Regions from separate parts of the Homo sapiens genome. Here region 1 is linked to region 2. The links come from fine-mapping of genetic effects on gene expression. A gene starts in region 2. The other region holds a variant in brackets. All regions are shown on one strand. Distances are between the middles of the regions.

Region 1 (5,374 bases), 59 kb before region 2:
TTCCAAATAAGGAGATGGATTAGAGGTGATTAGGAGCGTGGGCTCTAGAACCAAGGACCTCAGCTTTGCCACAGACTGGCTATGTGACTCTGGCCAAGTTACTTGGCCTTTCTGTGCCTCAGTTTCCTCAGAGAAGGTCAATAGTAGTAGTACTTGGTAAATAGAGTTGAGGTAAGAATTAAATTTGCCAACTCTGAGCCTGGTATATAAATGCTCAAATAAATTATTATGTTATCACTTTGGTCGCACAATTTCTGCCCAAGGGGAAATAATAAAAGGAGTCAAAACAACAATCTCCTGTGAAATATTCCAACAGGTCCAAGGAGTTGGGCTATGGATTTTGGACAAAGAGAAGAGAGCCTCTAATGTGAAAGGAAGACCCCAGTGTGCCAGGCACGGTGGCTCACGCCTGTAATCTCAACATTCTGGGAGGCTGATGCAGATGCATTACCTGAGGCCAGGAGTTTGAGACCTGCCTGGCCAACATGGTGAAACCCTGACTCTACTACAAACACAAAAATTAGCCAGGCGTGGTGGTGGGCAGCTGCAGTGCAGCTACTCAGGAGGCTGAGGCAGGAGAATCACTTGAACCCGGGAGGCAGAGGTTGCAGTGAGCCAAGATTGTGCCACTGCACTCCAGCCTGGGTGACAGAGCAAGACTACATCTCAAAAAAAAAAAAAAGAATGAATAAATAAATACAATAATAATAAAAATATTGAAGGTAAAATTGGGGAAATTTCACAGAAAGTAGAATTTTTAAAATTGTAACAACAAAAGAAAAAAGATTTTCAAAAATGATGCATCATTGTAGGAAAGTCAATAGCTAACAGGAATTTCAGAAAGAGAGAACCAAGGAATCATTGGGGAAAAAGCTGTCAAAGAAATAATACAACAAACTTTCCCAGAATTGAAGGACAAAAATCTCTATAACAAAAAGATCACCATATGCCCAGAACAATGAATGAAAAAAGATACTCAGGAAGACCAAGTCATCATCTTGAATTTCATTCTTTTTTTTTTTTTTTTTTGAGACAGAGTTTCACTCTTGTTGTTGCCCAGGCTGGAGTGCAATGGTGCAATCTCAGCTCACTGCAACCTCCACCTCCTGGGTTCATGCAATTCTCCTGCCTCAGCCTCCCAAGTAGCTGGGATTACAGGTATGTGCCACCACACCTGGCTAATTTTGTATTTTTAGTAAAGATGGGGTTTCACCATGTTGGTCAGGCTGGTCTCGAACTCCTGACCTCAGGTGATCCACCCACCTTAGCCTCCCAAAGTGCTGGTATTACAGGTGTGAGCCATCATGCCCAGCCCTTTTTTTTTTCTTTTTAAGACTAGTCAAGTGCAGTAGTGAGAAAAGGGGAAAGAATTGAACTGATCAACTGAGATAACTGACTACCTTCAGATCAGCCCATCTTGAATTTCAGAAAATGGATGATACGGTAAGATCATGAAAGAGTCCAGAGAGAAAATGAAGATTACGTGAATGACCAAGAATGCAATGGATTTCTTAACAGCAATAAGAGAAGCTAGGCGCCAGCAGAAAAATATCTTCTAAGTGTTGAGTATGAATGACCTTCAACCTAAAATTCTGTACGCAACCGGACTACCAATGACATGTAAATGGAATAAGACCATTTTCAGACATGTAAGGAAGTCTCCAGGATGACAACTGATACAATTTCCAGCAAGCAATCCAGGAAAGGAGGCATGAAGACTCCAAGAAATAAAAAAATAAAAATTACAAACTATCTGGCTGGGCACAGTGGCTCTCACCTGTAATCTCAGCACCTTGGGAGGCCAAGGTGAGTGGATCACTTGAGGTTAGGAGTTCAAGACCAGCCTGACCAACAGGGTGAAACCCCGTCTCTACTAAAAAAATACAAAATTAGTCAGGTGTGGTGGTGCACACCTGTAATCCCAGCTACTTGGGAGGCTGAGGCAGGAGAATCACTTGAACCTGGGAAGCGGAGGTTGCAATGAGCCAAGATCACGCCACTGCACTCCAGCTTGGGCAACAGAGCAAGACTCTGTCCCCCCCCAAAAAAATCACAAACTAGCTGACAGATTTGACTATGAAGAAAACCTTATTCAAGACATTTACACAACTTTTGGAGGGCATAAAATGATTATTTAGATGTTCAAAGAGAACAAAGCAAATGAAAAAGCAAGGCAATTATTAACTCCAGGAAAAAGTAAAGTTGCACAAGAAAAGATAAAACTTGTCTCAGTCATGAACACAATTTATGTAGTCATAATAGTGAAAACATTGAATATGTATTTAACCAAAAATGGTGATATTAGGTATCAGTATATTAAGAGGATGGAGGAAATGATAATGAAGTGTGAGCTAAAAAACCCTCATTAGACATAATAGGAAATCAGTAGATACTTTCTAAATTGAATAAATGAAAATTTTGCAGGATAAGGCCAGGCATGGTGTCTCATGCCTGTAACCCCAACACTTTGGGAGGCCAAGGTTGAGCCCAGGAGTTTGAGACCAGCCTGAGAAACATGGCAAAACCCCATCTCTAGCAAAAATACAAAAATTAGCCAGGCATGGTAGCACATGTCTGTATTCCCAGCTACTGGGGAGGCTGAGGTGGGAGGATGGCTTGAGCCCGGGAGGCAGAGGTTGCAGTGAGCTGAGATCGAGACACTGCACTCTAGCCTGGGTGACAGAGCAAGACCCTGTCTCAAAAAAA[T/A]TTTTTTTAATTGCAGGATAGATTTATTATTTTAAAAGATGTAGGTATATCCATAAGAAACAACTAAAAGAATGGTTACTTCTGATAAGGGATATGGAAGGGGCTGGGGAGAACAAGAGACTGCAGTTTTTTTGTTATTTGTATTTATGTACTAACTGGCTTTTTACAAAAAATGGTTTTAAAAACCCAAGATCTAGAACAAATAAGGGAGGCATACCTTAATTTTGGCAGCTAAGATGCTTAAATTAAAAGGAAAGTAAGCCAGGCGCAGTGGCTCACGCCTGCAATCCCAGCACTTTGGGAGGTCGAGGAGGTTGGATCATGAGGTCAGGAGATCGAGACCATCCTGGCTAACATGGTGAAACCCCGTCTCTACTAAAAATACAAAAAAATTAGCCAGGCGTGGTGGTGGGTGCCTGTAGTCCCAGCTACTCAGGAGGCTGAAGCAGGAGAATGGCGTGAACCTGGGAGGCGGAGCTTGCAGTGAACCGAGATTGTGCCACTGCACTCCAGCCTGGGCGACAGAGTGAGACTCCGTCTCAAAAAAAAAAAAAAAAAGAAAGTAAATCGTGATAAAATAAAAATATCTTACCTTAGTATTAGTTTACCTTTCAAAAGTACTTGTGGGCCGGGTGCTGTGGCTCATGCTTATAATCCCAGCACTTTGGGAGGCTGAGGTGGTCAGATCGCTTGAGCTCATGAGTTCAGCACCAGGCTGGGAAACATGGTGAAACCCCATCTCTACTGAAAATACAAAAAAAAAAAGAGCTGGGTGTGGTGGTGTGTGCCTGCAGTTCCAGCTACTAGGGAGGCTGAAGTAAGAGGATGGCTTGAGTCCATGAGGCAGAGGTGATAGTGAGCCAAGATTGGGCCACTGCACTCCAGCCTGACCAACAGAGCCAGACCTTGTCTCAAAGAACAAACAAGGCCGGCGCAGTGGCTCATGCCTGTAATCCCAGCACTTTGGGAGGCTGAGGTGGGTGGGTCACCTGAGGTCAGGAGTTCGAAACCAGCCTGACCAACATGGTGAAACCCCGTCTCTACTAAAAATACAAAAATTAGCTGGGTGTGGTGGCACATGCCTATAATCCCAGCTACTTGGGAAGCTGAGGCAGGATAATTGCTTGAACCTGGGAGGCCGAGGTTGCAGTGAGCTGAGATCACGCCATTGCACTCCAGCCTAGGCGACAAGAGCGAAACTCCGTCTCAAAAAAATAAACAAACAAACAAAAAAATGCTTCTGACAACAACCTAATGCCCTGATTCTGATTTCTAAATCGTTTTTCCCACTATAAGAAACCAGAGATTGGCAGGGCACGATGGCTCACGCCTGTAATCCCAGCACTTTGGGAGGCCGAGGTGGGCAGATCATGTGATCAGGAATTTGAGACCAGCCTGGCCAACATGGTGAAACCCTGTCTCTACTAAAAATACAAAAATTAGCCGGGTGTGGTGTCATGTACCTGTAATCCCAGCTACTCAGGAGGCTGAGGCAGGAGAATCACTTGAACCTGGGAGGTGGAGGTTGCAGTGAGCTGAGATCACACCATTGCACTCCAGCCTGGGTGACAGAGCGAGACTTCGTTTCAAACAAAACAAAACAAAACAAAACAAAACAAAACAAAACAAAACAAAAAACCATAGATCCTTTGAGGAATGGCTGATTCCAGGGATACAGCAGGGAAAATATAAGACAAGCCCGGTACATCTTGGTGGTCCAGAAGGCAAGAATGTGCTCAAAGGCTAATAGAGACACATCCAATGGACTTAGAGTCAGTTTAAAGGGTTTCCACAGAGCCTGAGTAAAATAATGTGATCATTAGAAACATTAATGACTATAACCTATTTTGAAACACTAAATAAATAAAAATGCAAGAGTTCATAGTGATTATTATTATTATTATTAGTTTTGAGACAGGGTCTCACTCTGTCTCCTAGGCTGGAGTGCAGTGGCATGATCTTGGCTCACTGCAACCTTCGCCTCCCGGCTCAACTGATTCTCCCACCTCAGCCTCCCAAGTAGCTGGGACTACAGGTGTGCACCACCACATCTGGCTAGTTTTTAAATTTTCTGTAGAGATGGGGTCTCCCTATGTTGTACAGGCTGGTCTTGAACTCCTGGGCTCTAGCAATCTACCTGCCTCAGCTTCCAAAGTGCTAGGATTATAGGCCTAAGCCACTGCACCCAGCCGTGACTATTTTTAAACAAGAAAAAAATACAATTAATTTGTCACTATTGGAGGTGATTATTGTGTCAGTCTATCCTGAAAATTGATAAAGGATTAAGCAGTTAGGAGGAACTGTGGTTCATCTCCAGGTGATGAAGGAAAATTCTTTACAAAAGAATATAGACGTACCGGAGAAGAGTTGACTCATGCCAGTAATCCCAGCACATTGGGAGGCCGAGACGGGAGGATCGCTTAGGGCCAAGAACATGAGACCAATCTGGGCAACGTAGGAAGACCCCATCTCTACAAAAAATTTTAAAAATAAAAAAAATTAGCCAGACATGGTGGTGCACTTGTAGCCCCAGCTACTCTGGAAGATGAGGCAGGAGGATCGCTTCAGCCCAGGAGGCCAAGGCTGTGGTAAGCCATGATTGCACCACTGCACTCCAAGGTGAGCGACAGAGTGAGACCCTATCCCTAAAAAAATAAAAATAAAAACA
Region 2 (5,374 bases):
GTCACCCAGGCTGGAGTGCAGTGGCGAGATCTCGGTTCATTGCAACTTCCGCCTCCCGGGCTCAAGTAATTCTTCCACCTCAGCCTCCCTAGTAGCTGGGTTTACAGACATGCACTACCATGCCCGGCTAATTTTTGTATTTTTAGTAGAAATGGGGTTTCACCAGGTTGGCCAGGCTGCTCTTGAACTCCTGACCTCAGGTGATCTGCCCGCCTTGGCGTCCCAAAGTGCTGGGATTACAGGTGTGAGCCACCACGTCTGGCCATCTGATGTCTCCTTTAACTAGGACATCAGCTCCTAGAGGGCAGGGACTGATCTGTCGTCTACCACTGTCCCCATACCCGGGCAACACCTGGCACGTAGCATGATTTTAGTGAGCAGCTACTGAGTGTAAGGGGTAACGTACAAATAGTTGAGCTGTCTTGGGGCCCTGCCTGGGGCTCAGATTAAAAATCAGCTTAGTCGGCTGGGCGTGGTGGCTCACGCCTGTAATCCCAGTACTTTGGGAGGACGAGGCTGGCGGATCACCTGTGGTCGCCAGGTCCGAGACCAGCCTGACCAACATGGAGAAACCCTGTCTCTACTAAAAATACAAAATTAGCCGGGCATGGTAGCGCATGTCTGTAATCCCAGCTACTCCGGAGGCTGAGGCAGAAGAACTACTTGAGCCCAGGAGGTGGAGGTTGCAGTGAGCCGAGATCGCACCATCACACTCCAGCCTGGGCAACAAGAGCGAAACTCTGTCTCAAAAAAAAAAAAAAAAAAAAAATCAGCTCAGTTTTAGTAAGAGCTCGCCACGCAGGTGCCCTCACCACCTGCCAGGCCCTCTGCCATCTGGTTTTCCTACTGAACCCTCCCCGACCAGGTGTTTTCCAGATGGAGAAACAGGCCCTACCTGCCTTGCTCGGGGGTGTGCAGCCATTTCAGGGCACAGCTGGCCGCTGGGAGAACCAGGACTCAAACCTGGCTCTACGCCGGCACTCACCTCGTCGATCTCACACTGGACCACGGACTCCACGGAGGGGTGCTTCACCACCTCCCGCAGGACACCTCCATCTCCGCCCCCGATGATCAGCACCTGGGAGGAGGGGGCAGTCAAGGCAGGGGCCCTGGCAGGACTGGGAGCCCCCAGGCCCCTGAAGCAGACCCCCTGACCCCTCGGACCCACGGGCCTCATCTTTTTCTACCCTCGGAAACGCTTTCGTGCCGGTGTCCCCTTTCCTGGAAGTTCCTTCCAGGGCTGCCCTAGGATTCCGAGGCCGCGTCAGTGTCGGCCCCCACCCCTCCGCGGGACGCCCCTGGCCTCGCTAGCACTTTCTCTGACAACCATGCAGGCAGCATCTGGGAAGAGCCCGGAGCACACCTGGGGCCGCCCCTCGTCCGGCACTGTTCCAGGGGACACTGGGGTACCTTTCGCGGGTTGGGGTGGCTGCAGAGAGGCAGGTTGGCGATCATCTCCTGGTAGGAGAACTCGTCTCTCTCCGTGCACTGGATGACACCGTCCAACACCAGCACGTTGCCATAGGTCTTACTGCGGGCGGAGTGACAGTCGGGGACCTGGGTTCTCTGGGGTGGGGAAAACGTACCCCAAGCCGCCCTGGGTGAGGAGGGTCTCCCCATCCCGCCTAGGGGTCCCAGGGATGAGGAGCGATGGTGACACGTGGCGAGGAACGGCAGGCGGGCCGCCGGGTGGAGGCCGGGGTGGGACCCGGGGTCTCCTCGGGCTCTGACGTGTCCTGAGGGCTGACACGTGGAGCGGGGCGCAGACTCCGACTCCCCCACCCAAGAGGCCAGCCCGCAGTCCCAGCCCCAGCCCAGGGAGGCGGTGTGAGGGGTGGCGAGGGGGCCAGGGCAGGACGAGGTCCAGCCCGCTTGGGTCCCGGCGTGGAGAGGCCCGTGAGGCGGGCAGCAGGCGGCCCGGGCTGAGCCTAGGGGGCAGGCGCCTGCGGGCAGCGGCGGTACCTGCGGAAGACGAGGATGTCCTGGTAGCGCGAGCGCCGGTGGTGGAGCAGCTGCTCCACCTGCAGTGACAGGGCCTGGCCGGGCCACAGGCTGCAGGTCTCGCGGAACCAGCCCTCGCGGATGGCGGCGGGGCCGGAGGCGGCGGGGCCGTCGGGGCCGGGCTCCATGGCGGGCGGGCGGGCGGCGCGGGGCGCGGGCCCGGGACTGCAGGCCGCGCGGCGCCGCAGCACAACGGGACCAGCTCCGCCCGCCGCCCGCGCCGCAACCTAACCCGGGCGCGGGGCGGGGCCTGCCGGCGGGGGCGGAGCCCGCGCTCGCCAATGGCAAAGCGGCCTCGCCTGGCGCTCATTGGCCACCGGCTCGCAGAGCGGCGCAGAGTGGCTGTGGCGCGCCGTCCGTCGGCGGCAGCAGGGTAGTGCGGCCCGCTCCAGGGGCCACGTGGGGCCCGGCCGGGGCCGGGCGGCCGGGTCGGGTTCCGGGGCGGGCTGGGCCGGCGGAAGGGGTCCGGGTCCTTCCTCCGCCCCAAGCAGCCGGGGCGGTGCACCACCGGCCCCCGCTTCCTTCTCGGGGTTGGGAGGCACCGAGGGCCTCGAGGGGCTGCGGGACTCGGGCTTGGTGTGGAGGGCAAGAGCGCTGCGACGTGCGGACTGGAGAGTCAGCCTTTGGGCTGGAGACACGGGAGCGGGTGGCTACAGTGGTTTACGTTGTTGCACGGGGCGAGTAGAACGTATCCTTCTTTGCGTCCAAAATCTGGTTCCTTGTTGGATTTGAACAGATTATGTGGCTCGTCGGGGCGAACCGAGGGTTTTTATTTACTTGGAAAGAATCATCACAGCCCGCGAATTCACAAGCTGGATTTAGCCATTTTCCCTTAGATTCTGCGCCATGAGCCTATAGGCTGTTGAATACGAGAGAAGTGCTTTTCTAAACGAGTTTCTAAATTTACCAGCAGTGTCCAGGAAGAGGCCCAGAACATACATATTCAGCACCAGAAAAGACTGGCACGCAATTTTTCTTGACAAACTGGGTCTTGCTCTTTGAAGGGTGGGTGGGAATGTGCTGTTTTTATGAGAATGTCAAAGAACTTCTCAGAATCACATTAAGCATGCTAATTACCAAATATTAAATGCTAATTGTTCCACACGCAGTTCGAATGCCAAGGAAGGAAGATGAAACTAGTATAAGCTACTCTTGACATTATGTCAGGGATGGTTTTGACACGTTTTGCAGCCTCCACCTGGAGGTGGGGAACGTTTCCTGTGTCGTCCCCAGAGCAGAGTAACAGCGTTGTTTATGGGTGAGAGCAAGCCTCAAGCCTAGGCAACAATGTGCCTTGCTTGCTTTTAAGCTCCTTCTAAAGGGGAGGTAAACCAAGACCGCTAAAGAATTGCTAGGTGCCTGGGCGTGATGGTTCACCCCGGTAATCCCAGCACTGTGGGAGGCGGAGGCGGAGGCGGGCGGATCACGAGGTCAAGAGATCAAGACGATCCTGGCCAACATGGTGAAACCCCGTCTGTACTAAAAATACAAAAATTAGCTGGGCATGGTAGTGCGCGCCTGCAGTCCCAGCTACTCGGGAGGCTGAGGCAGGAGAATCGCTTGAACCCGGGAGTTGGAGGTTGCAGTGAGCTGAGATTGCGCCACTGCACTCTAGCCTGGGCAACGATAGTGAAACTCCGTCTCAAAAAAAAAAAAAAAAAATTGCTAGGCAGCTGGGCACAGGGGCTCAGGCTGATAATACTAGAATTTTGGGAGGCCGAGGCAGGAGGACCGCTTGAGCCCAGGAGTTCGAGACCAGCCTGGGCAACATAGCAAGACTGTCTCTAAAAAATAAAAAACATTGCTAGGCAACAGCTTCCATGGACTTGTTCCAGGAACGAAGATTATTCTTGAAATGTCCACGTAGTGGATAAGACAGAGTCAATCAGTGTGTCCAGTGCTACAGGCTTGATTGGGTTCAATCCTGTACTTGGGTCAAGGTGTTTGCCTACATTGCCTGTACTTCCTCCAAGACATTTCTGCCTCTGGGTTGTAACTGCCCGTGTACTTGTCTGTGTTCCCTAAGCCAGATCATAAGCTCTGAAGCTGAGGATGGTGGCTGTAGATGGCAGTACTTGTCTGTGTTCCCTGAGCCAGATCATAAGCTCTGAAGCTGAGGATGGTGGCCGTAGATGACAGGCCTGGATGCAGCCAGGTGCCTTGTGGATCAGCTTGCTTTTAGGTGGTGAAGGACTGACCATAGACAGTGGCCCTGGCATTCCAGGACACTGCATGGGGGAAAGTGGAGGGCCAGGTCCATCCCATCCCCTCTATAAGCTGGACAAAGCTGCTCCAGCATGTGGGTCCTCACATGAAAAAGGCCACATTGACATCCTTTGTCCTCCTGTAGAGGGAGTGAAACTGAGAGGCCTCAGCCTCAAGCAGGCACAGAACTTGAGACCTCTCGGCCAGAGTGTACAGACATTGCACAAACCTTCCAAGTTCAGAGAAGACAAAAGCCCTGAGTAAATTACAGACAAAAAAGCCCCCAAATATACAGCACTGTGAATCCAGAAATGCCACCTGACTTCAGGTCACAAGGAAGAAAAACTGATTTTGCCAGAAGTAGCCATTATTGCACAGCCCAGTTATAATCACAACTGACGTTAAAGTCAGGCCAGATGACCACAGAAGTCTACAGAAAAAAACCAGGATTGGCCACGCGTGGTGGCTCACGCTTGTAATCCCAGCAGTTCGGGAGGCCAAAGCGGGTGGATCACCTGAGGTCAGGAGTTCAAGACCAGCCTGGCCAAGGTGGTGAAATTCCATCTCTACTAAAAATACAAAAACTAGCTGCCATTGTGGCGTGCACCTGTAATCCCAGCTACTTGGGAGGCTGAGGCATGAGAATTGCTTCAACCCAGGAGGCGGAGGTTGCAGTGAGCCACAGTCGCACCACTGCACTCCAGCCTAGGTGACAGAGCGAGACCCTGTCTCCAAGAAAGGAAAAAAAAAAAAACAAAAAAAAACACCCCCAACACCAAAAAACAAAACAAAACAAAACAAAAAAACAACCAAACAACCAGGACTGAGAAAATCAGGCTTTAGCATGAAATGTTTTCCCCTAAATTCAGACCAATGTACCTCAAAAACCCAGTTGTAAAGCTTAAGTGTCTAGTGGGTTAACTATCCCACCCAACCTCCTAAAAAGTGTTATTATAAAAGGAAAAAGGGGAGAAAGGGTAGAGGAGAGAAAGGTGGGCCAATGGCTACTGTTCAAGGAAATGGTTTAAATGGGGCTGCCACGTGGTTATGTGTCTGTCACGAGAGGCTTGTTAAGCAGTTAGCACTTGAGTCATTTTTCTACACTTCCATTCAGCCAGGCAGACAGCTGTGGTTATGAGTGGGAACAATTTTGGCCATTATGTGGTGT

Which allele goes with the higher level. Alleles are on the strand shown, and positions count from the first base shown. SD is a standard deviation of normalised expression in the study named.
With allele T in place of A in region 1, the expression in whole blood of the gene that starts at base 2,204 in region 2 is higher (moderate effect, 0.57 SD a copy in Lepik 2017).

Evidence for each region. PIP is the estimated chance that this variant, and not a neighbour inherited with it, causes the effect. A credible set is the group of variants that fine-mapping cannot tell apart.
Region 1: its variant is the best candidate, but not a certain one, in a credible set for the expression of SRM in whole blood (Lepik 2017, PIP 0.51).

The regions. Positions count from the first base shown.
Region 1 is chr1:10,998,533-11,003,906 of GRCh38, forward strand. No RefSeq gene overlaps it. Among named protein-coding and RNA genes, the nearest start is that of TARDBP, 11 kb to the right of the region's middle. The variant T/A (reference allele first, on the strand shown) is at 2,707.
Region 2 is chr1:11,057,815-11,063,188 of GRCh38, forward strand. It overlaps SRM (spermidine synthase), which reads right to left and starts at 2,204. Exons shown (of 8, transcript NM_003132.3): 1 at 1,963-2,204; 2 at 1,411-1,531; 3 at 986-1,078. The coding sequence starts at 2,129. RefSeq lists silencers at 1,724-1,913, 2,124-2,653.